2 separate regions of the Homo sapiens genome follow, and region 2 is linked to region 1. Evidence: fine-mapped QTL for protein levels in blood plasma. A gene starts in region 1. The other region holds a variant in brackets. All regions are shown on one strand. Distances are from middle to middle.

Region 1 (8,026 bases):
AGAGCGCCCACACGTCTCCCGAGAAGAAGAAGGTGAGCATGGCCGAGGCCACCGGGCACCCTCCCTGGCTTAGTCTCAGGACAGCTCAGCTGCAGAGCATGCTGGGAGTGAGACACAGGACAGCTGGGGACAGCACCCGGAAGCAGGGCAGCGCAGGGGCTCCTAGACTGCGGGAAGCAGTGTCTTCCCTCACCAGGACTGAGCCGCCTTCTGGGTTTTCAGTTTTCACCCCCCAGGTGGCCTGGAGTGGGCCTGCACTGGGCTGCAGGGGTCAGGCAGGCAGCAGGCACAGAGGAGCCCAGGAGCGGCAGAGCTTGCCTCCCAGTGGTGGGAGGCTTAGTTTTATGCCCAGCTTGGGCCTCTTGGAGCTCAGGGGCCTCTTCTGTGGAGGCGAAACCGTGTCTGTGAGTGCTTTAGAGTGCAGTCCTGAGTCCGCATTGTTCTGGTCCTGGGGGAGGACAGCCATGTCCCCTCAAGCTGTAGTCAAGGCTGGATCCTGACAGATTCTGGGAGCCCCATGGCCCTGTGCTGCCACCGGGTAGCCTCAAGCTCGGGCTCTGACCTTGATCCCGTGCCCTGAAACAGGCCAAGGAGCTCCCTGAAATGGACGCCACCTCCAGCCGGGTGTGGATCCTGACCAGCACCCTGACCACCAGCAAGGTGGTGATCATCGACGCCAACCAGCCGGGCACGGTGGTGGACCAGTTCACCGTCTGCAACGCGCACGTGCTGTGCATCTCCAGCATCCCCGGTGAGCAGCTGGAGTGGGCGTTTCCACTCGGGCGCCACTCCCTTTTACTAGCAAGCTAAGTAAAAGCCCTGCCACACAGCAGCTGCCTTCTCGGGGTGTCCTGTGGACACGGGAATGTGGCAGTGGACGGTGGGAGGGGCAGCACCCAGTCAAGTGAGGCCCTGGGCCCTGTTTCTGGGAGGAAGCTCGCGGCAGCCTCGGCCTCTTCTCCCTACCTACTCAGGACCCCACGCTTACCTGGTTAGAGGGTGACGGGTGGGCACGGCCTGCAGCTTGAAGCATCACTCGGAGACCACAGGAAAACATTTCCTCATGCTGAATGTGAAACCTCCAGTTGGGCCGAAGGGGCTATGGGGGTGTGGGTGAGGAGCTTCGTGTCACCCCTGTGGGCAGTAGCCTTGGTGATGTTCTGGGCCAGCCCCAACACTGGGAGGACGAAGGGGTGCCGAGGGCTCTGCCAGGTCTCTGGTGTGAAACCACAGGGCCGTCTGGGGTCCTGAGGGTCTGCCACAGGATCACAGGTTGTTTGCTCCCAGAACCAGAGTCTTACTACTCAGCTCCCCTTGGCCCAGGGGCCTACCCAACAGAGCAGGCTTGCTGGAGTCCCAGACCTCCAGGCAGAGGGTCGTGGGTGGGCTGTGGGTGGAGCATGTGTGGAAGCTGGGTCTGCTGGGAAAGTGGAAGGCCAGCCCCGGCTTCCTCTGCCCCTGTGTAAGTGCTGGGCACGCCCTTGCAGTAGTGGGTTCCCCCGCACAGGCTGACGGGCCGTCCCTCTCCCCAGCGGCCAGCGACAGCGACTACCCTCCCGGGGAGATGTTCCTGGACAGCGACGTGAACCCAGAGGACCCGGGCGCAGATGGCGTGCTGGCCGGTATCACCCTGGTGGGCTGTGCCACCCGCTGCAACGTGCCGCGGAGCAACTGCTCCTCCCGAGGGGACACCCCAGTGCTAGACAAGGGGCAGGGTGAGTCCTGGGCGAGTTTCCCCCATCCCCTCATTCCCACGTTTCTGCCCAGCCCAAGCTCACCTCTCCTAACACAGGGGAGGTGGCCACCATCGCCAACGGGAAGGTCAACCCGTCCCAGTCCACAGAGGAGGCCACAGAGGCCACGGAGGTGCCAGACCCTGGGCCCAGCGAGCCAGAGACAGCCACATTGCGGCCCGGGCCTCTCACAGAGCACGTCTTCACTGACCCAGCCCCGACCCCGTCCTCTGGCCCCCAGCCTGGCAGGTGAGCTCTTGGGCTGGGGCAGGAGCAGAGGGAAGGCTTGCAGAGGTGGGAAGGGCCTCGGGGTCTTGGGGCAGGTGCGTGCTCCGTGGCCCCCCCTGGAGCCACCGTTCTTCCTGCAGCGAGAACGGGCCAGAGCCTGACAGCAGCAGCACACGGCCAGAGCCAGAGCCCAGCGGGGACCCCACGGGAGCAGGCAGCAGTGCTGCACCCACCATGTGGCTGGGAGCCCAGAACGGCTGGTAGGAAGGGCCCGGGGCAAGGTGGAGGGAGGGTCCTGGGTGAGCCCCTCGCCCATCGCCGCTTCCTTCCCTAGGCTCTATGTGCACTCGGCTGTGGCCAACTGGAAGAAGTGCCTGCACTCCATCAAGCTGAAGGATTCTGTGCTGAGCCTGGTGTGGGTGACCCCAGACCGAGGGCCGGGCGGCGCGGGGGAACGGGGCGGAGGGGGCTGGCACAGCCTGGCCCAAACCAGGCTCACCGCATTCCTGTTTCAGGCATGTCAAAGGCCGTGTGCTGGTGGCTCTGGCGGACGGGACCCTGGCCATCTTCCACCGTGGTGAAGGTGGGGCCTGGCAGCACGGGGTGTGTGGGTGGCAGCTGATGGCCCTGGCATTGTTTAGCCAAGGGGCTCCCGGGGTTCCAGGCCTCTCCTTAGTCTGGCAGTGGGTGTCTCAACCCGATGCCCTGAGCAGAGGTGGGGCCTGGCCAGGCCTGAGCAGGTGTCCGGGGCTCCCTCCAGATGGCCAGTGGGATCTGAGCAACTATCACCTAATGGACCTGGGCCACCCGCACCACTCCATCCGCTGCATGGCTGTTGTGTACGACCGCGTGTGGTGTGGCTACAAGAACAAGGTGCACGTCATCCAGCCCAAGACCATGCAGATAGAGGCGAGTGCCGGCCAGGGCCCCGGGGAGGGGAAGAGGCTCCTGCTGGCCAGCAGCTCTCCCGCATCTTCCATACGGAAGTCCACGAGGCCCTACGTGGGTCCCATCTCCCCTGTACCACCTATGACTCAGGCTCGAACAGGCGCAAAGCAGGCGCTGGCTGGGAGGTCTGAGGGGACTGCAGGTGGCCCTGGAGCTGTGGCAGGTTTGGGGCTCCCCACTTCCTCTCCTCTCCCCAGCCCTGTTGATGGGCAGCCATGACTCCACAGAAGTCATTTGACGCCCACCCGCGGCGGGAGAGCCAGGTGCGGCAGCTGGCGTGGATCGGCGATGGCGTATGGGTGTCCATCCGCCTGGACTCCACCCTGAGGCTCTACCATGCACACACGCACCAGCATCTACAGGACGTGGACATTGAGCCCTACGTCAGCAAGATGCTAGGTGAGGGGCCACGCCAGATGGGGTGGTGGGGTGCTCAAGGCCAGCCACCCTGACCGCTCTCCCCCACAGGCACTGGCAAGCTGGGTTTCTCCTTCGTACGCATCACGGCCCTGCTTGTCGCGGGCAGCCGGCTCTGGGTGGGCACCGGCAACGGAGTGGTCATCTCCATCCCCCTGACAGAGAGTGAGTGGCCTGCACACCTGCAGGGGCAGTGGTGCTGCCAGAGGTGTACGTGGGTTCACGGGGTGGCTCTGCAGGGCCACCTTGGAGGGTGCCTTGCTGCCCCTACGCTGACCGCTCTCCTCTTCTCCCATGCTCCTCCCATGTCCCCAGCTGTGGTCCTGCACCGAGGCCAGCTCCTGGGGCTCCGAGGTAAGCCCAGCCACCTCGTGTCCCCTCACGGGAGCCTCTCCCACTCTCCACCTGTATGCGGGCTCAGCGCCTCTGGGTTCTCTCCCTGCAGCCAATAAGACATCCCCCACCTCTGGGGAGGGCGCCCGTCCCGGGGGCATCATCCACGTGTATGGCGATGACAGCAGTGACAGGGCGGCCAGCAGCTTCATCCCCTACTGCTCCATGGCCCAGGCCCAGCTATGCTTCCATGGGCACCGCGATGCCGTGAAGTTCTTTGTCTCGGTGCCAGGTGAGGCTGGGCCCCTCCTGCCATCCACATCCCCTGCATGCCAGTGGCCGCCGCCTCCCCCAGGAGGCCGCTGTCCTGAATCGCTTCTGCCATCCCAGGGAACGTGCTGGCCACCCTGAATGGGAGTGTGCTGGACAGCCCAGCCGAGGGCCCTGGGCCAGCTGCCCCTGCCTCGGAGGTCGAGGGCCAGAAGCTGCGGAACGTGCTGGTGCTGAGCGGCGGGGAGGGCTACATCGACTTCCGCATTGGTGAGCGGGGCCCAGGGACAGGGCTGAGGTTGGGCGCGGGGGGAGCCTGGCCGTCACTCTGCTGCTTTGCCCGCAGGAGACGGAGAGGACGACGAGACGGAGGAGGGCGCAGGGGACATGAGCCAGGTGAAGCCCGTGCTGTCCAAGGCAGAGCGCAGTCACATCATCGTGTGGCAGGTGTCCTACACCCCCGAGTGAAGCTGCTGCCCTGCCTGGCCCGACCTGTACATAGGACCCCCGACCACCTGACCCCCGCCCGGCCCGCGGGGTAGCCAGCCAGGCGCCGCCGCCCCTCTTCTAACCTCTCAACCTGCAGCTTTCACCTGAGTCTGGCCCCTCCAGCGGGCAGGGAGTGCGGGGATGCGGATCAGCTGGGAGGAGGAGGGGAGGGGAACTTCCACCCGAGGGGAAGATGCTCTCGGGACAGTTTCCCGGGCAGCTCCTGGCCAGCTTCCAGCCCAGAGTCCTCAAGTCCAGGGCACCTTGGGCCCAGCGCAGGCAGAATCCGAGGTGGTCCTGGCTCTACCCTGGGCCTCCTACTCCCCAGCACCCCTGGAGGAGGCAGGGGCTCCCCGCCGCCGAGGCTGCCTGCCCTGGGCCCACCTCTGCATGCTGCTCATGGGGCCACCCTGCCTCCTGGGCCCTCACTCTGCCTAGGGGAGCTGGGCCAGGCACTAGCCTTTGCCCAGGGAGGTGGGCCTCAGGCTGCCCAGGTGCCTGCACCCCAGCCGGCCTTCTCTGGGGCCTCCCCGTCGTCAAGCCTCTATCCTGTCTGTCCCCACCCCAGCTGTCCCCTGCCCAGGGAGCTGGCATAAAAGCACGAGGCCCGGCTCCCTGGGGCAGCTGCTTGAGAACAGAGACTGCTACCCCATCCTGCCCATGCAGGCAGGCTCTTGCCAGCCCCGTTCTGACCCGTGTCCCCCCAGGCTCTGCCTGGGCAGAAGACTCACCTTGGAGGAGTGGGCCCTGGAGTCCTGTCCCTCCCAGAAGCCCCCAGGGTGGGATTTCTCAGGCTGCCAGGGCAGGCCCAGGCCTCAGGAAGAAGGGGAGGCCCCTGGCCTCTCCGGGATCAGTCCTAGGACACAGGCTCAGCCTCAGGTTGATGGGGGATGATGTGCTCCCGGGGCCTGCCTCCTGCACGGGGCTCCACGGAGCCCAGCTCCCAGACACGCTACTAAGTGCCTAGGGTTGCCCGCTGTGGCCTGCTTCCAGGGAGCAACAGAGAGGCCACCAAGCAGAGGCCCGTGGGGCTGAGGATGGAGCCGCCCCCAGCCGACTCCAAGCCCGCAGAGGGCAGACGCCACCCTGGACTGCTCTCCCTGCCCAGCTGGGCCTCTCTGGCCTATTCCTACCTTCCAGGCCCACTGCACTCCTGTCTGGGAGGCCCTTATGAGGGCAGCCCAGCCCCCGCACCCACCCCCAACCAGAGAAGCACAGATCTTGGGGAGCTGCCCCACAAGCCCCGCTGGCCACCGAGGGCTGCAGCCGCTGCGCTGCCGGCTTCTCCCCACCACCCTGCCACCTCCACTGTGATGTATGTCCGCTCCCTCGTCTGTTCCCCCAGGATCTCGAAGTGACTCCGGGCTGAGCAGTGGGGCGGCTGGGGGAGGGGTGACGATTCTCCTCAGGCTTTGGCCCTGCAAGCAAACCCACATATCTGCTCTGTATGTAATAAATGTCTTAACGTCGTAGCTGCCTGTTCCTGGGCCCAAATCGAAACGAAAACGAGGACTTTATTATAAAAAAACGTTGGACCACGTTGGGCTGGGCACCAGGACAGTGTCCTGGCACGTTTCCAGGCGAGCCGCGCAGGCTCCTGGAGCAGCTCCTCGGGCAGGAAACCCTGTACGCCAGGGATTGGAGAGGCCTGCGCCACCCTCCATGCAACGTCCAGACAGGTGGATGTTCAGCAGCCCGTCCAAAGGGATGCTCCAAGCGCTGTGGGGTGGGGCCAGAAGCCCGCCCACCTGGGCCCTGGAGGAGGCTGGAGTGTGAGAGCCTCTGTGACGCGCATCTGCCGGGCTACTCATACAGCCAGTGCCCAGCGCTGTCCTCCCAGCAGAGGAGCTCGTCTGCGCGGAACCAGAGAGCGATCTCGCGGCGGGCACTCTCCACCGAGTCGCTGCCGTGAATCAGGTTCCTGCGCGGAAGAGGCGCGTGTGAGCGTGGGAAAGAGACCTCCGGCACGGGTACCACGCAGGCTGAACAGGGGGAGGCCGGACGGGGCTGGGACCGTCCCCGGGGCGGGCCTTACTTGCCAACCTCGATGCAGAAATCCCCGCGGATGGTGCCGGGCGGGGCGTCGGCCGGGTTCGTGGCTCCGATGAGCGCCCGCGAGGTGCGCACCACGTCCAGCCCCTGCCATACCTGTGCGGAGGAACGGGCGCGGTATCACGCGGGGGTGGGGGTCCCGGAGCCGCCCGCCCGCTTCCCGGATACTCACCATGGCCACCACCGGCCCGGAGGCCATATACTTGACAAGGCGGCCGTAGAACGGGCGTTCACGCAGCTCGGCGTAGTGCTCACGCAGCAGCTCCTCGGAGGCCTGCGGAAGGGTCAGGCCGCCTGCGCCCGCACCCGGCACCTAGGCGTCCCCAGGTCCCCGCTCCCCTTCCCCCCACACCGCGCCCCCGCTCGCTCACCGCGCCCCCACCTGCACCAGCTTCAGCGCCACCAACTTGAAGCCCTTCCTCTCGAAGCGCCGCACAATCTCGCCCACCAGCCGCCGCTGCACGCCGTCCGGCTTCACGGCCAGGAAGGTGCGTTCGTGTGCGCCGGTGCAGGCTGCGGGGCAGGCGGGGACGGGCCGTCAGGCCGGCCCAGCACCGGCCACCCGCCCCCGGCCCGCGCCGCGCGGCTCACCCGCGGGGAAGAGGTTAGCGAAGATGGTCAGCACCAGGCAGATCATGATGGCGGTGCGGGAGCGGGATCCGCGGGGCGGGGCGGTGGCGCCCGGGGCGGGGCCTGCGCTTAAAGAGGCCTGGTCGGGGCGCTGCGGCCTCCGCGGGGAGGCTGCTTCACTTGCACCCCGGAACCCGGCAGCCGTGGGGGGCCGGAGGGCAGCTGCGGAGGCCAAGTCTCCTCCAGCAGCTCGGACACTAACTGTATCCCCCACAACCCGCCCAGGTGGTTCCACCCACGCGGCGCCCTGCTCCGCACCGCCCGAACCCCGCCCCCCCCGCGCCCCCCCGGCCAGGGCCACGACCACAGCGTCAGCCCTTCTCTCCCCGGTCCTAAAGACAGAGCGCAAAGACACCACGACCCTGGGTACTTCTTTTCTCTTTATTCCCTTTCATAGCTTCTGCCGGGATCCAGGCAGAGAGAGCACTAATGGGGGAAAGGGAGCGAGCGCTTCCCGCTTTCCCCAGCGTGGGCCCTCGGAGTTGGGTGTGGGGGCAGCAGGGCCAGAGGAAAGGCACAGGTGGCGATTTGCCCCAGCCCTCCCCCCTAAGATGCAGACCCTCAGAACACGTCGCGGAAGGTGAGCTCCCTGCTCCGAGAGGCAGACTCGGGTGTAACGCAAAGACGGTTTCTTTCATCAATAAGGTCCCCACTGCCTCACAGCCCCTAAGGCCACCCGCTGGTTCTGGCATTCTAGACGGGGGTGCCCTTGGCCCTTCCTTTGTCTTCCTGTTTTGCAGGGTAATCCCAGGGTTCCATGCGTATCCTCTGCACATTCAGCATGGGCTCCTCGGTGCTTGTGTCTCCATTTTTCTGTCGTTCTGCGATAATCATGGCCCGGAGGAGAGGCGGGTACGGCACGGAGGCCAGGCTGTCTTCCGGCGCCGGCGTGAACGCGGTGAAGGCCTCCTCCTCGTGCTTGGGCA
Region 2 (15,534 bases), 54 kb before region 1:
AACGTGCTGGAGAACCTAGACTCGGTGCTCAGCGAGAACCAGGAGCACGAGGTGGAGCTGGAGCTGCTGCGCGAGGACAACGAGCAGCTGCTCACCCAGTACGAGCGTGAGAAGGCGCTGCGCAGGCAGGCGGAGGAGGTGCGTGGGCCGCGGGACCCGCCCGCATCCCCGTCCCGGACCCCCAGCCAGCCCCGGGCCCCGGACCCAACACCCGTCCCGACCCCAGACCCCGCTCCGGCACCCCGGACCGCGGGACCCCTGGACCCCCAGACCCCGCCCCGAGACCCGCCTGGACCCCATATCCCCCGCCCCGGGACTTCCCCACCCCCTCTGCCCGCCGTGAGACACCTCCCTAGAGCACTCCCCCGCCTGCCCCGGGACCCCACCCCGACTCCCGGGGACCCCCTTTTCCGCCCAGGCCTGGGCCCTGGCCCCCTCCTCCGTGCCCCCAGCCCTGAATCTTCAGCCCCAAACCCGATGTGCCTGGCGTCATCCCCGGGGAGCTCAGCTTCAAAGCCAGGCCTCACTCTCCCCTCCCCACCCACCTCTGCATGACAATTGCCTTTGCTTTCGTGCGTGTGTTCAGTCAAAACCGTTTCCCGACCCCAAGTGCTACCTCTGTTGGCTGCCATTCTAAACCCATCTAGAAAAGGAATCTTTTGGTGTTCTTAGGGGGCTGCAGCCGTCTGTGGATGATGTTGGAGACCTTTCCCTTGTCCCTAATCCCGTATTTTGAAGGTCTGTGACACGGGTGAATTGGGTGGTTGATGTAAACACAGAACAAGGCCGCAGGCGGGCTGCTCCTCTGTCAGCAGAAGGAACACTCGAGTTTCTGGAGGTGATGTCTTTGCCCCCTTGGTTCCTTGCTTGGCGAGATTGTTAGCTGATGTAGCCAGGGCTGAGAAACTCCACTCTGGCTTCTGAGGAGTTAACAGTCTGAGTTTGAAGCGTTTAATTCTGTGCTAGGATGTCTCCATAACCTGGAAATCGCTTGTCTGTGAAGCAGTTACAAGAGCCGGGCCCTGTGGGGAGCACCACTTAGCTTCATTCATTCACCGTCAGATACTGAGCTCGGCCTGCCTGTGTGTGGGCCCAGAACCTCGCCCTTTGTCAGAAACAGGTTCAGGGAGGCTGGTTCCCATCCCTGCTTTGCCTCTGTGACCTTGGCCTGTCGCCTGCCTGGGGTTCGATTTTCCATCAAAGGAGTGAATTGCACTAGGCGATCTCCAAGCCCAGAAATTCTCTCATTCTAGGAGTTAGGTAATGCTGTTTGACTTATGAATAGAAGTGTCTTAGGAAATGAGCTTCAATTCCTTTTCAATTAATTCGGCTTAACACATTCTTGACTTTAATAGGAAAATAAAAGATTGTGTCAGTATTTTGGCTTTTTCTGAAACCAAGGTGATTTATGGCCTAGTTTGGTTTAAAGCGTGTTTATAAAAATCATAACAGTATGTTGTATCATTCCTCCTTTCCTGTGGTTTCTATTGCGTTTGGGCTTCGTGTCTGTCGCGAGGTGGTTATGCATTGATTGGAATGCCCCGGTTCCAGCAAAGCTGAGTTAAAGCTCTCAACCTAAGGGAACGCAAAGGTTCATGGATTTTGGAGCTCAGGGTGACTATAGGCATTTTACTGGGAAGGAAACTTGTCCTGAGAAGTGGAGGGGCTGAACCAAGGTCACCCACCCCAGAAGTGCCCAGCCAGGATGCAGAGTGAACCCGACACCGGCCTGGGCACTTGCTTCCATGTCAGGCAGCTGCAGGCACCGGAGGGCTGCTCCCCAGAAGCCTGGAGTGCCAGGGCTGCCCTCGCTCAGCTGTGGAGCTGTGGCTGCCCCCTGTGCTGGGCACCGCCCTCCACTGCTCTCCCACACTCAGTGGCCTGACCTGGATTTCAGGTGGGTTTCTTTTTTTCACCTTGTACCTGTGTGGTCAGTATAGTGGACGAGAAGGAACTGAAAGGAGAAAATCAAGATGGACAACGTTAAGGCTAGGAATTATAACCTTGCCGCTTAAAAATGAGCTGTGCACAGGATAGGCGCTGCCCAGCTCTGTGCGGTTCACATGCAAGCTGCTGTGAGTGCATCTGCCCTCCCCCAGGGCTCCTGCTGAACCAAGCTGGCGGGTGTGCGTGTGGTTTGCAAAGCTATCACCTTTAGTCTGAGACCCACCATTGCCCCAGCGCTTTAGAGAAGCTGCACCGAGAGCTTCGGGAGCCGAGCCCCGAAGCCAGCCAATGCTTGGCCAGCATGGAGGCTATGATTAAACGCTAACGGGGCGCCCTTGGAAAGACCTCAGGGCTTTACAACTAAGGAAGAGGGCTCGATGCTGTCAACATTTGGCATGCCTACTCCTCTACTGAATCAAGCAGACCTTCATTTCCAACTTTGTAGACCATTGTGCCCTGTGGGTCGGCGTCTTTTCTAGGCAGGGACTTGTGATCACATAGACGTGTGTCTGATAAGAGGGGAGCGGGACGTCACACGCTGCAGGCGTGTCTTGTTGCAGAGGAGCTCCTGGGTGAGCTGTCAGCAGAAGCTCCGTCCCCAGCCACTCTGCTCAAGAAGGCTTAGTCAGAGATGGGTAACCTGAGCCACTGCAGCTTCTGAGCAGACAGAATCCGCAGGGTTTTATAAAAACCTGAGCAGAGCAGACATCCCTGTTCCCATCTTCTTGCCGGTCATTACCACAGTGACTCCCAATGTGCTCTGATAACAGGCAGCTGAGTGTATGAGAGTGACAGGAGCTAGAGAGGGTGGGGTCTCCCGAGAGACTGACCCAAGCCGTGGAGTCTGCAGACCCCAGCCTGAGTGTCAGCCCGGCCCTCAGGAGCCACACACCCTGGGTCCATCCTCTTCCCCTCGCTGGGCTGCAGTGGCCGCGGACTTTGCAAGTCAGTTTCATCTCAAGATCCAAGCACCATCACTGGCTGTTGGTTGCCTGGAGAATTGTGGGCAGGCAGATGTAGCAGAGTCAGGGCAGAACCCTTGACGGGTTCTCAGGGCCGCCGTGGACGGCAGGCACCGGACATTGCTAGCCGCCTACCAGACAGTGCAGTTTCTGGTTGTGCAGGCTCTGATACAAAGTTTTTTAAAACCCTCAAGTTATTTCCCAGTGGAAAAGAAGAAGGTGGGAAACAGCAGCTGAACGGGGTGGGGGCTGGCAAGGAGCAGATGCTGCCTCCACACGCACCGTCCGGTGCAGCTCCAGAGGAGGGCCGGGCAGAGCCACCACGTTTGCCGGGCTTACCCGGGCAGCAAAGAGCCCTTCTCCCATAGTGATCAACTGCTTAGCTTACAAGAGGAAAAATAAGGTGTGAGAGATGACATGTGAATATTAGTGGTCATTATTTGCCTTAAAATCTTCTTAACCCTAAAGAAACTGCTGCTGGTAACACCCCCCAGGCTCATGGCAGGCAGCTGGAGTGGGTGTTCTCTCAACAAGCCCAGATGGTGATGTTTGCTGATCATTCGGCATTTGATGCTATGTAAGGAAAGGATGCAAGGGAAGACAGTTTTATCCAAAACTTATTTTTTCCGAGTTAAATAAAAGTTACCGGCCAGGCGCAGCGACTCTCACATGTGTAATCCCAGCACTTTGGGAGGCTGAGGCAGGCGAGAGATGAGGTCACGCTATGTTGCCCAGGCTGGTCTCAAACTCCTGGACTCAAGCAATCCTCCCACCTCAGCCTCCCAACATTTGACATTGAACTCCTGACCTCCTCATCTCAGGTCAGGAGTTTGAGACCAGCCTGGCGAACCTGGCGAAACCCTGTCTCTACTAAAGAAAAAAAAAAGAAAAAAAAATTAGCCAGGTGTGGCGGCAGGCCCCTGTAGTCCCAGCACTCGGGAGGCTGAGGCAGGAGAATCACTTGAACCCAGGAGGCAGATGTTGTGGTGAACCAAGATCATACCACTGCACTCCAGCCTGGGCAACAAGAGTGAGACTCTGTCTCAAAATAAATAAATAGATAAAAATAAATAAATAAATGTCATCCATTTCATAGACTATTTGGGTAGGATTCAGCTGGAGAAAACAAACACCATAATCCCGCTCTACAGAGATGATCAGTCTGCCATTTTTCCTTCTTTTTTTCTCCTCTGCGCCAGACGATCTGCAGGAAGTCTTTTCCATCAATGAATTAAGATGCTGAATCAGAAATTTTTATTTTTGTTTTTCATATGACAAATAGTAAATCCACCACTGCTTGGCCAGAGTATGCGATTTCTTTTCCTGCCATGTTATGATATTAAGAACAGTTTTTTAAAAAATGTTTTTTAAATGAAGCTATCAAGATGGGGCTGCCAGAGCTGCCTTTCCTAGGTGCCTCTGAAAGCTGGCCTGGTGTAGCTGTACCACTCACCAGGAGTACAGCAGTCTCCCTAAAAAGTGGAGCAAATACATGTAGGAACCATGGAGAAGGAGGTACCTGCCAGCCAGAGAGAACACGGGACAGAGGCCGAAGTGGCCCGGAGGCCGCTGGGCGCAGCCTGCCCCTCTGCCGCTCCGCTGCGGGAGCCCCCGGGCCACGCTGGCAGCAGTCAGACAGGGCCGAGAGCTGAGAGAAGTCAGTTCTTCCAAAATTAAGATTTCTAAATGAAATATCTGTTTCATTTTTACGTTTTTAAAAACCATTTTGAAATATGTACAGAAAGGTTGCAGAATTAACACTCCTCACCCAGCTTCCCAAGTGCAGGCGTCTTCCCACGCTGCTTTCTCTGGCTGTGTAAGGGGCTCAGGGGTCCCTGTGTCCTTGTTGTGTCCTGTGTTCTGCGGTGGCCCCTCGTTCTCTGCTCTTATTGACCTTGACCATTGCGACAACACAGTTCAGTCACTTTGCAGCTGTGCCTCAGTCTGGCTCATGGGCCCTGGGGACCAGATATGGAGCATGTCCTCAGGCCTCAGCAGGAAGACCCATGGCATGCAGAGCCTCCTAGATCCTTAATCTGTGCCAGATGGGCATCAGGTGAGGGGCACAAGATTTTTGGATGGGCCCCTTTCCCAGGTTCCCATTTATTACCAGGGCTGGAGGATGAGCTGTTAGTGCATGAAAATCACTACAGAAGCTTGCCCAGGAGCTGCATGGGGTGCCGGCTCTCCGGACTTGTTTTCCTTTGCCCTGTTGAAAGTTGGGGTCCCAACGCTGGGCGCAGTGGCTCACGCCCGTAATCCCAACACTTTGAAAGGCCGAGGCGGGTGGATCATGAGGTAAGGAGTTCGAGACCAGCCTGGCCAATATGGTGAAACCCCGTCTCTACTAAAAATACAAAAATTAGCTGGGCATGGTGATGCACACCTGTACTCCCAGCTACTTGGAAGGCTGAAGCAGGAGAATCGCTTGAACACAGGAGGTAGAGCTTGCAGTGAGCCGAGATTGCAACGCTACTGCACTCCAGCCTGGGCAATTGAGGGAGACTCCGTCTCAAAAAAAAAAAAAAAGAAAAAAAAAGAAAACTGAGGTCCCGAGCTCCCCTTGTCACCCCAAGTATCTAGCCGCCACTAGGTCCTGGTGTTCTTTTGGCCTCAGGAGTTCTTTTTTTTTTTTTTTTTTTTTCTTTTTTGAGATGGAGTCTCGCTCTGTCACCCATGCTGGAGTACAGTGGCGCAATCTCGGCTCACTGCAAGCTCCACCTCCCAGGTTTATGCCATTCTTCTGCCTCAGCCTCCCGAGTAGCTGAGACTACAGGTGCCCGCCAACACGCCCGGCTAATTTTTTGTATTTTTAGTAGAGATGGGGTTTCACCGTGTTAGCCAGGATGGTCTCGATCTGCTGACCTCGTGATCCACCCATCTCGGCCTCCCAAAGTGCTGGGATTACAGGCATGAGCCATCGCGCCCGGCCAGCCTCAGGAGTTCTTTAATGTCCCCACTTTTCATCTCCTTTGCTGCCTTCTGCTTCCAGTCACCACCATCCCAGGGTCTCCCGGCCACTCCCACCGCCGCCACTTTGCCAGCCCAGAGAACCCTCACAAAGCATATCTGGTCTCTGAGTGCTAGGGTGAATTCCAGGCAGGGGGATTAGCTGATTGCTCTCCTGGGGCAGACTGGACATCTCAGGTGGTGATAACATGAGGGGATCTGAGTGACAAGGTGGGCCAGGACACTGGGTGGACAGAGTGAGGCTGTCTTCCCCAGGTGGCCCCCCACTGGGCCCACCTCTCACCAGCCTCATCTGCCTCTGGTCTTCTGGCTGCCCCCCATTCTGCAGACCTGCAGTTCCTGCCTCCTAGACCACCTGCCCCCACCCCTCCCTCGGGGTTTATCTGGCTAGTTCCCGTCTCTGCCGGATTCGCTGGTGTCTGCCTCCGCAGTGCACCTGCAGAGAAGCCCCCATCACCCACTCTGCCGCCCCTGCCTGGGGAGCTGGGCCCCCACCAGGCCTCTCTCCCGGCTTCCGCAAGTTAAGCTGCTCCCTGCCAACAAGGGGCCGGCACCCTTTGGTTCATTCAGCCTGAGCCTGTTGTTTCCTTTTCTCGGCACACCCGGAGATGCTGGCCATCTGTGTGTGTGGATAAAGGGAAGCCGGCTTTCCTCTGTCTCTGCACACATCTCACCAAACTGTGCAGTTCCGGAAGGTCAAGGACTGTCTCTTTGGAGCAGCCTTTCTGACAGAACGTTCTGGGATGATGGAAATGTTGTATTTGGTGCTGTCCACTTCAGTAGCTGCTGGCCACATAGGGCCGTTGAGCATTTTAGGCATGACTCATGGAACTGAGGAACTGGATTTTTAGTTGTATTTACTTGTTTCGGAGATGAGGTCTCGCCACGTTGCCCAGGCTGGTCTCAAACTTCTGGACCGAAGCAATCCTCCCATCTCAGCCTCCCGAATAGCTGGGACTACAGGCTCGTGCCACCATGCCCGGCTGTGTTTTATTTTAATTAATGTAAACATGTGGCCAGGGCTTCCATACTGGACAGTGTGGCTGTGGGCAGTCTAGCTGAGCTGCCTGGAAGCAAGGGCAGATGGTGAGTTACTCAGCTTCATGCAAGAAAGGAAGATGCTTAAAGGGTGGGTTTGTTTCCTGTTTAATGAACATTTTCCAGAAAGAGGGGAGATCCCGTAGCAGTGGGTTTCAGATACAGGAGACCAGACAGGAGAAAATATTGTGAGATGGGAAAGTGGATGCCAGCAACAGGAAACAGCAGAGAGGGGCTGAAGTTCTCGAAAGGCCAAGAAGAGCCTGGTGGGAAACCGCTCGCACCTCAGGACTGCCTGTGCTCAGGGCACAGGATCGACTTTTTCGCCTTGGGCTGCTTTTTGTTTTCTTTCTGTGGGTAACAATTTTATTGCAGTATCATTGACATACACTGAACTGTACATACTTAAAGAGTACAATTTGATGAGTTTTGAAATACGTATAAACACCAGAAGCCATCCCTGCAGTCCAAGCAGCGTAGACGCCCGGACCCCAGAGTTCCCTGTGTCCTATGTAATCCCCCTCCGACCCCTCCTTGCCCCACCTGTCCCCAGGTAACCACTGACCTGCCTTCAGTCACTGTAGGTTAATTTGCATCTTCTAGAGCTTTGCATAATGGCCTCCTGCAGTGCGTACGTGGTTTCCTCTGACATCTTCCACTCGGTACAGTGATTCGGGGACTCACCCAGGCTGTGTGTGTCCTTCCCCCATGGCCAAGCAGGGTCCCAGCAGTGCCGTTTGTCCATCCGCCTGCCTGCAGGGGAGCTGGGCGGCTTGTTTTTACGTAACCTTCACGCATGAGCGGTTTGTAAGCCCGCTCACCCCGTTGGCAGGGTGTTGGGCCAAGCACTGCTCTGGGGCAGGCTGGCAGTGAAACCCAGAGACTAGAATCCGCTTATGAGGGGGGTGCGTCTTTGCGGAGACCCTTAGAGCCCACAGCATCATTACTCTGGTGCATTTTCTTTTGAGCCACTGTTACGGCAAGAGATCCAGGGCGTGCCACGTGAAACGCGACAGGGCCTTTCCTCAAGACCTCTCCTCCGTGTGGTGCGTTTCTCACACAGGGTCTAGGACATTTCAATTCTTGTTATCAACAACCAGATTCAAAACTTGCCTTTTGTTAAAGTTTCGGGGGGCCCCTTCCTCCCCAGGCCTCTGGGGAGTTTGGGGCTCCTGTTCCCTAACCTTTCCTCAGCCAGCCTGCCCATCACCTTTCCTTCTCCCCAGGAAATGAATTCCCAGATATACGCACAGTCCCAGTGGGCCCTTGCACACGTGTGTCTCTATGTCCCTGCCTCGGGTTAGAGCATTCATGTTTTGAGAGCAGGGACCCTTTGGCTACTGAGAAGAGTGAACTGAGGCACGGTTAGCAGGCCTCTCGTTCAGTGGAACCAGAGGGAGTCGGAGGTTGGGGCTGATTAGGAAGTTTCAGAAGCCAATGTAAACTCCTAAGAATGCACCAGAGAATAAAAGTTTACTTGAGAATAATTTTTCCCAGGGAGATGTTTCATAGGATGGGACACTTAACTTGAGGTTTTGGTTTTATCTTCATTTTTCTTCCGCTGGTACCAACCATATAAATTTATATATATATTTCCCAATACAAATGTATATGTACTAGTAAGACAGATGGGAAATATATATATATCTATTTCCCATCTGTCTTACCCATTCTTGAAATCAGTTCGTATTCAACCAGTTGGGATTTGTTTTACGTGGACACTGAACCCAGCCATCCCTTTCACAGAACGTGAGGAAGCCTTGCTTTTCAACCTGGTTTTTGGAGTCCCGAGCTAGTGGCCAGCTCTCTCAGCCCCACACGTAATACCTGAATGGAGAAATGTCCTTCCCTCGACCCGTGTCCCGTCCAGCAGGCTTCAGGGGCAGCTTTGTAACTCCAGAGCCACCCCCTGCACGTCCTCTCTCTGCATTTTAGACCTAGGTGGCCAGGCAATTGTGGGAAATGGAAAGAGCTCTGACTGCCCCCTGCCAGCCCAGGGTAACCACAGCCATGCGAGGTCCCTGCCCGTACCTGGGAACTAGCCATGAAGGGCATCTGCCAGGCACGTGCCCGGCACCTGTCTGCCTGCTTAAGATAAAAGACCAAAAATGAGCGTTTTTCCTTTGGAAATTCATACTACACCCTCATTCCCAGGGAAGGAAATAAATTGATCGGTATTGCACAAGAACGAGATCTTTGATTCGTGTCAAGATTCGTTTCTAACCAACCAGCCAGAGCTGAATTGTTTCTCGCTGGTGAGCCTGGCCTAACAAACGTATGAGAGGAGAGGTTTGGATTTTTTTTTTTTTTGAGATGGAGTCTCACTCTGTCGCCTAGGCTGGAGTGCAATGGCGTGATCTCTACTCACTGCAAGCTCTGCCTCCCGGGTTCAAGCGATTCTGCCTCAGCCTCCTGAGTACCTGGGATCACAGGCGCCCACCACCACACCCAGCTGATTTTTTGTATTTTTAGTAGAGATGGGGTTTCACCATGTTCGCTAGGCTGGTCTTGAACTCCTGACCTCACGTGATCTGCCCACCTCAGCCTCCCAAAGTGCTGGGATTTCAGGCGGGAGCCACTGCACCGGCCGAGGTTTGGATTTAATGTATTACTTTACTCAGCAGGAAAGTGTCCATGGGTTGTGAAAGTTACCAAAAGCCTGTTGATCGCCCTGTGAAAGAACTTTCCTGGCCATTGCTCTGACATTCTGAGTCCAGAATACTGTCATCTTGATTTTATATTGGACATTAAAAGTCAGTCACTGCGTTAACTTTGTTTACATATAAAAGGAAGGATGATATCATTCTATGGAATACTGAAAAAACTGGCTTGGATTACTAGATTTTCGAAGACCCTATGCTCTCAGGTCATTTCTTTTTTTTTTTTTTTTTGAGACAGAGTCTCCCTCTGTCATGCAGTGGCGCGATCTCGGCTCACTGCAACCTCTGCCTCCTGAGTTCAAGAGATTCTCCTGCCTCAGCCTCCTGAGTAGCTGGGATTACAGGTACGCACCACCACGCCTGGCTAATTTTGGTATTTTTAGTAGAGATGGGGTTTCACACGTTGGTCAGGCTGGTCTCAAACTCCTGACCTCGTGATCCTCCCACCTCGGCCTCCCAAAATGCTGGGATTACAGGAGTAAGCCACTGTGCCCAGCCAGGTTATTTCAATATGTATCTTGAAATTCACCGAAAATGCTGGGCATGGTGGCTCACGGCTCTAATCCCAGCACTTTGGGAGGCTGAGGTGGGTGGATGACCTGAGGTTAGGAGTTTGAGACCAGCCTGGCCAACATGGCGAAACCCCGTATCTACCAAAAATACAAAAATTAGCCAGGTATGACCAGGCGCAGTGGTTCACGCCTGTAATCCCAACACTTTGGGAGGCTGAGGCAGGCGGATCACGAGGTCAAGGAGATCGAGACCATCCTGGCTAACACAGTGAAGTCCCATCTTTACTAAAAATAAAAAAAATTAGCCGCGTGTGGTGGTGGGCGCCTGTGATCCCATCTACTCAGGATGCTGAGGCAGGAGAAACAGTTGAACCTGGGAGGCAGAGGTTGCAGTAAGCTGAGATTGTGCTACTGCACTCCAGCCTGGGCAACAGAGCGAGATGCCGTCTCAAAAAAAAATAAAATAAAAATTAGCCAGGTGTGGTGGTGGGTGCCTATAATCCTAGCTACTCAGGAGACTGGGAGGCTGAGGCAAGAGAATCACTTGAACCCAGGAGGCGGAGGTTGCAGTGAGCCAAGATCGTGCCACTGCATTCCAGCCTGGGTGACGGAGTAAAACTCCATCTCAAAAAAAAAAAAAAAAAAAGAAAGAAAGAAATTCACCAAAAAGCAAATTCTGAAAACATAAGTTGAATTTAATTTTCAAGCAGAGCCCTTTGGTCGTGGGAGGGATGGGGAAGTACATCTTAAAAACATGTCTAAAAAGGGAATCCTGTGGCATATTGGTACCTAGATGTGAGAGTTGTTTCGTGTCTCGACTGAGGAACGACACCCATGTTTTCCTTCATTTTGTAATCTCAAGTCATTGCTCCTTGGGATGCTCAAAGGTGACCCATAGGTGGCCTCTCATGTCCAGATGCCACACAGCATTTCACTAGACTCGGTTAGATAGGTGGTCGTGTCAAATACACGCTGCCCTGCAGCATGGATCACGAGCACGTGTACAGAAACCTTTCACTTTGCTATTGTCACACCTTCAGTAGGTCTCTGGGACCAAGATACTACCGTGCTGTATTCTGGGTAGTTCTTTTATTTTTTTATAATCTAGTACTATGCAGGCCCATTCAAAAAAAATGCTGATAGTTAAAACTTTATTTTTCTCAGCTCCGTTTATATTTTGTAATCGTGCTTTATAGACTTAAATTCATCTCTATTCCCCAAGTCCCCACCACTGAAAATTCTTGGTTCTCTTTTTTTTTTTGAGATGGAGTCTCGCTCTATCGCCCAGGCTGGAGTGCAGTGGCACGATCTCAGCTCACTGCAAGCTCCGCCTCCCAGGTTCCTGCCATTCTCCTGCCTCAGCCTCCTGAGTAGCTGGGACTACAGGCGCCCGCCACCACACCCGGCTAATCTTTTTTGTATTTTTAGTAGAGATGGGGTTTCACCTTGTTAGCCAGGATGGTCTC[G/A]ATCTCCTGACCTCAAGGTTCGCCCGCCTCGGACTCCCAAAGTGCTGGGATTACAGGTGTGAGCCACCAAGCCCGGCTGAAAATTCTTGGTTCTCTTAAATCAGAAGTAAATGATTTTTTTTTTTTTGAAGCAGAGTTTCACTCTTGTCACTCGGGCTGGAGTGCAATGTCATGGCCTCGGCTCACTGCAACCTCTGCCTCCCGTGTTCAAGAGATTCTCCTGCCTCAGCCTCCTGAGTAGCTGGGATTACAGGCATGCATCACCATGCCTGGCTAATTTTGTATTTTTAGTAGAGACGGGGTTTCACCAAGTTGGCCAGGCTGCTCTGGAACTCCTGACCTCAGGTGATCCCCCCACCTCGGCCTCCTAAAGTGCTGGGATTACAGGCATGAGTCACCGCGCCCGGCTAATGATCTTTAAATAAAAATATTTTCTAGGCCGGGTACGGTGGCTCTCGCCTGTAATACCAGCACTTTGGGAACCCAAGGCAGGCAGATTCCTTGAGGTCAGGAGTTCAAGAGCAGCCTGGCCAACATGGTGAAACCCTGTCTCTACTAAGAATACAAAAATTAGCCGGGCATGGTGGTGGGCACCTGTAATCCCAGCTAGTCAGAGGCCGAGGCAGGAGAATCGCTTGAACCTGGGAGATGGAGGTTGCAGTGAGCCAAGATCGCACCACTGCACACCAGCCTGGGCAACAGAACCATCTCAAAAAAAAAAAAAAGAATGTTCCAGCATCCACCCCCAGAAGCCCCATCAGAGGACTCTTCACTTCCTCAAGATGAGTTTTCTCTCACCCCAAGTCTAGCCCTAGCATCTTCTCACTGAAAACGACTCAACATTAGGGGCTGGGCGAGGTGGCTCACGCCTGTAGTGCCTGTGGTTCAGGAGGCTGTGGCAGGAGGATTGCTTGAGCCCAGTAGGTAGGTCAAGGCTGTAGTGAGCCTTGGTCATGCTGCTGTACTCCAGTCTGGATAACAGAGCAAGACCCCGTCTCAAGCAATCTTCCTGCCTCAGCCTCCCAAGTAGCTGGGACTATGGGCATGCAACACTGTGCCCAGCTAATTATTTTTTGTAGAGGTAAGGTCTTGTTATATTGCCCAGGCTGGGCTCGAACTCTTGGCCTCAAGTGACACTCCTGCCTCAGCAACCCAAAGTGCTGGGATTACAGCTGTGAGCCACTGTGCCCAGCCTGAGACCCAATCTTTAAAAAGAAAAAAAAAAAATGGCCCCTTCCTAAGGGACAGAGACCTGGTGCTTTCAGACAGGTGAAATGCATAACCAAAAAATAAATATGTATGTCGGTGATTCAAAATGATTCTCAAATCAATCTAGAAGGAGAAATTAGGAATAACCAGGAAAATGTTGAAAAGGAAGATGTAAGAGGGAGAGCAGATATTAGATACTAGAAAGTACCATAACACCACAACACCAGTTTAAAAACCTGTGGTGCTGGCTCAGAAACAGACTAAAATGTAGCCAGGCACAGTGGCTCATGCCTGTAATCCCAATACTCTGGGAGGCTGAGGGGGGATCGCTTGAGCCCAGGAGTTTGAGATCAGCCTGGGTAACATAGGGAGACCCCATCTCTACAAAAAAAAAAAAAAAAAAACCACAAAAATTAGCCCAATGTGGTGGCACGTGCCTGTGGGCCCAGCTACTCAGGAGACTGAGATGGGAGGATCGCTTGAGCCCGCGAGGTCAAGGCTGCAGTGGGTGACAGAGGGAGACCCTGTCCCCAAAAAATTGAAAAATAAAAGTAAAAGAAAAAAAGCCTCAAAAACAAACCAAAAAGTATAAAAGAAAGAAATGTTGAGAGTTCTACAAAAGGGCACTGTCCCACTTTTTAGGGGGAAGTGTAAGTTGGGACACCCTCTGAAGAGTCACTTAGCAGTGCATGACCGCAGCCTCAGAGAGCAGGAAGCCAGCAGGTGAATATACAAAGACGTGTGTGCACACAGCTTTTGTTTGTTTGTTTTTCTTTTGAGATGGAATCTCGCTCTTGTTGCCCAGGCTGGAGTGCAATGGCGCAATCTTGGCTCACTGCAACCTGGGTTCAAGCAATTCTCCTGCCTCAGCCTCCTGAGTAGCTGGGATTACAGGCGCACGCCACCACGCCCAGCTGATTTTTTGTGTTTTTAGTAGAGATGGGGTTTCACCGTGTTGGCCAGGCTGGTCTTGAACTCCTGACCTCAGGTGATCCACCCGCCTTGGCCTCCCAAAGTGCTGGGATTACAGGCATGAGCCACCGTGCCCGGCCAGCTTTTTATAGTAGCAAACATTTTAAAGCAACCTGAAAGTCCATAAAGAGATAATGGATTGAGCAAACTGTGCTCTACACACACACTCCCAGCAGAACACACACCTGCCAAAAATGGAAGTGGTCGAGTACGCCTGTTGGTGTTGAAAGGCATTTCAGTATAAATCAGTGAATAAATCAGGTTACAAAACACTGTGTACAAGATGATCGTACATCTGCTCTACACACACACATACAAATCCAGAAGCACGTCACACAATTTTAACCGACCCTATAGACCGAGACTCATAATTTAAAATTTTTTCTGTTTTTACCTAACACTGATTTTCCTGCAGAAACATACATTGTTTATATAATTATTTTCATTTTTTATATAACAGGAAATAAACTTACCTACTTTAAAAAATATCCAGGCCAGGCCGGGTGCAGCGGCTCACGCCTGTAATCCCAGCACTTTGGGAGGCAGAAGCAGGCGGATCACGAGGTCAGGGGATCAAGACCATCCTGGCTAACACGGTGAAACCCCGTTTCTACTAAAAATACAAAGAATTAGCTGGGCGTGGTGGTGGGTGCCTGTAATCCCAGCTACTTGGGAGGCTGAGGCAGGAGAATTGCTTGCACCCAGGGGGCGGAGGTTGCAGTGAGCTGAGTCATGTCATTGCACTCCAACCTAGGCAACAAGAGCAAAACTTTGTCTCAAAAAAAAAAAAAACAAAACAAGGCTGGGCATGGGGGCTCATGCCTGTAATCCCAGCACTTGGGAAGGCCGAGGCGGGTGGATCACCTAAGGTCAAGAGTTTGAGACCAGCGTGACCAACATGGAAAACACCATCTCTACTAAAAATACATTAGCTGGATGTGGTGGCGCATGCCTGTAATCCCAACTACTCGGGAGGCTGAGGCAGGAGAATCACTTGAACCCGGGAGGCGGAGGTTGCGGTGAGCTGAGATCGTGCCATTGCACTCTATCTCAAAAAAAAAAAAAAAAAAATCCTTTGCTCATGCCTGTAATCCCAGCACTTTGGAAGGCCAAGGCAGGAGGATTGCTTGAGCCCAGGAGTTTGAGACCAGCCTGGGCAATATAGTGAGATCCTATCTCTACAAAACCTTTTTTTTTAGAGAGAGGATCTCACTGTCATCTGGGAGTGCAGTGGTGCCAGCCTCAGGGCTCACTGCAGCCCCGACCTCCTGGGGTCACTGCAGCACCGACCTCCTGGGCTCAGGTGATCCTCCCACCACAGCCTCCCAGCTCACTGGAACTACAGGCACATGCCATCGTGTCCAGCTAATTTTTTTGTAGAGACGGAATTTCACCATGTTGCATCTAACTCCTGGAGTCAATCAATCCACTCGCCTCGGCCTCCCAAAGTACTGGGATTACAGGCATGAGCCACCGCTCCGGGCCTATAAAAACTTTGTTTTTTCGTTTTGTTTTGTTTTGTTTTGTTTTTGGAGACTGAGTCTTGCTCTGTCGCCCAGGCTGGAGTGCAGTGGCGTGATCTCAGCTCCCTGCAACCTCCGCCTCCCGGGTTCAAGTGATTCTCCTGCCTCGCCCTCCCGAGTAGCTGGGACTACAGGCGCCCGCCACCACGCCCAGCTAATTTTTTTTATTTTTAGTAGAAACGGGGTTTCACCATGTTAGCCAGGAAGGTCTCCATCTCCTGACCTCGTCATCCCCCCCGCCTCGGCCTCCCAGAGTGCTGGGATTACAGGCGTGA

Alleles and levels. Positions count from the first base shown, and alleles are read on the strand shown. Strength reflects both the effect of a copy and how common the allele is.
For the plasma level of the protein whose gene starts at base 7,116 in region 1, A is the high allele of the variant in region 2 and G is the other (strong association).

What was found. PIP is the posterior inclusion probability: the model's chance that the variant is causal. The UK Biobank Pharma Proteomics Project read protein levels with antibody pairs (Olink). The fine-mapping took linkage between variants from a reference panel, not from the people measured, so its PIPs are less certain.
Region 2: its variant is fine-mapped to the plasma level of the NME3 protein (UK Biobank, PIP above 0.99).

The regions. Positions count from the first base shown.
Region 1 is chr16:1,764,428-1,772,453 of GRCh38, forward strand. NME3 (NME/NM23 nucleoside diphosphate kinase 3) reads right to left here and starts at 7,116. Exons shown (of 5, transcript NM_002513.3): 1 at 7,062-7,116; 2 at 6,853-6,983; 3 at 6,643-6,744; 4 at 6,454-6,566; 5 at 5,893-6,339. The coding sequence starts at 7,107. The coding sequence ends at 6,222. MAPK8IP3 (mitogen-activated protein kinase 8 interacting protein 3) reads left to right here. Exons shown (of 32, transcript NM_001318852.2): 19 at 1-32; 20 at 586-751; 21 at 1,533-1,715; 22 at 1,793-1,982; 23 at 2,102-2,221; 24 at 2,296-2,376; 25 at 2,477-2,544; 26 at 2,722-2,870; 27 at 3,137-3,308; 28 at 3,378-3,491; 29 at 3,642-3,680; 30 at 3,772-3,951; 31 at 4,050-4,199; 32 at 4,276-5,924. The coding sequence ends at 4,397. It overlaps MRPS34 (mitochondrial ribosomal protein S34), which reads right to left. Exons shown (of 3, transcript NM_023936.2): 3 at 7,468-8,026. The coding sequence ends at 7,794. RefSeq lists enhancers at 1-414, 4,192-4,241, 7,752-7,841 and silencers at 6,352-6,551, 6,862-7,451.
Region 2 is chr16:1,706,520-1,722,053 of GRCh38, forward strand. It overlaps MAPK8IP3 (mitogen-activated protein kinase 8 interacting protein 3), which reads left to right. Exons shown (of 32, transcript NM_001318852.2): 1 at 1-138. MAPK8IP3-AS1 (MAPK8IP3 antisense RNA 1) reads right to left here and starts at 7,672. Exons shown (of 2, transcript NR_184234.1): 1 at 7,483-7,672; 2 at 7,010-7,268. RefSeq lists silencers at 40-149, 170-219 and enhancers at 7,419-7,468, 12,197-12,366, 13,607-13,726. The variant G/A (reference allele first, on the strand shown) is at 11,556.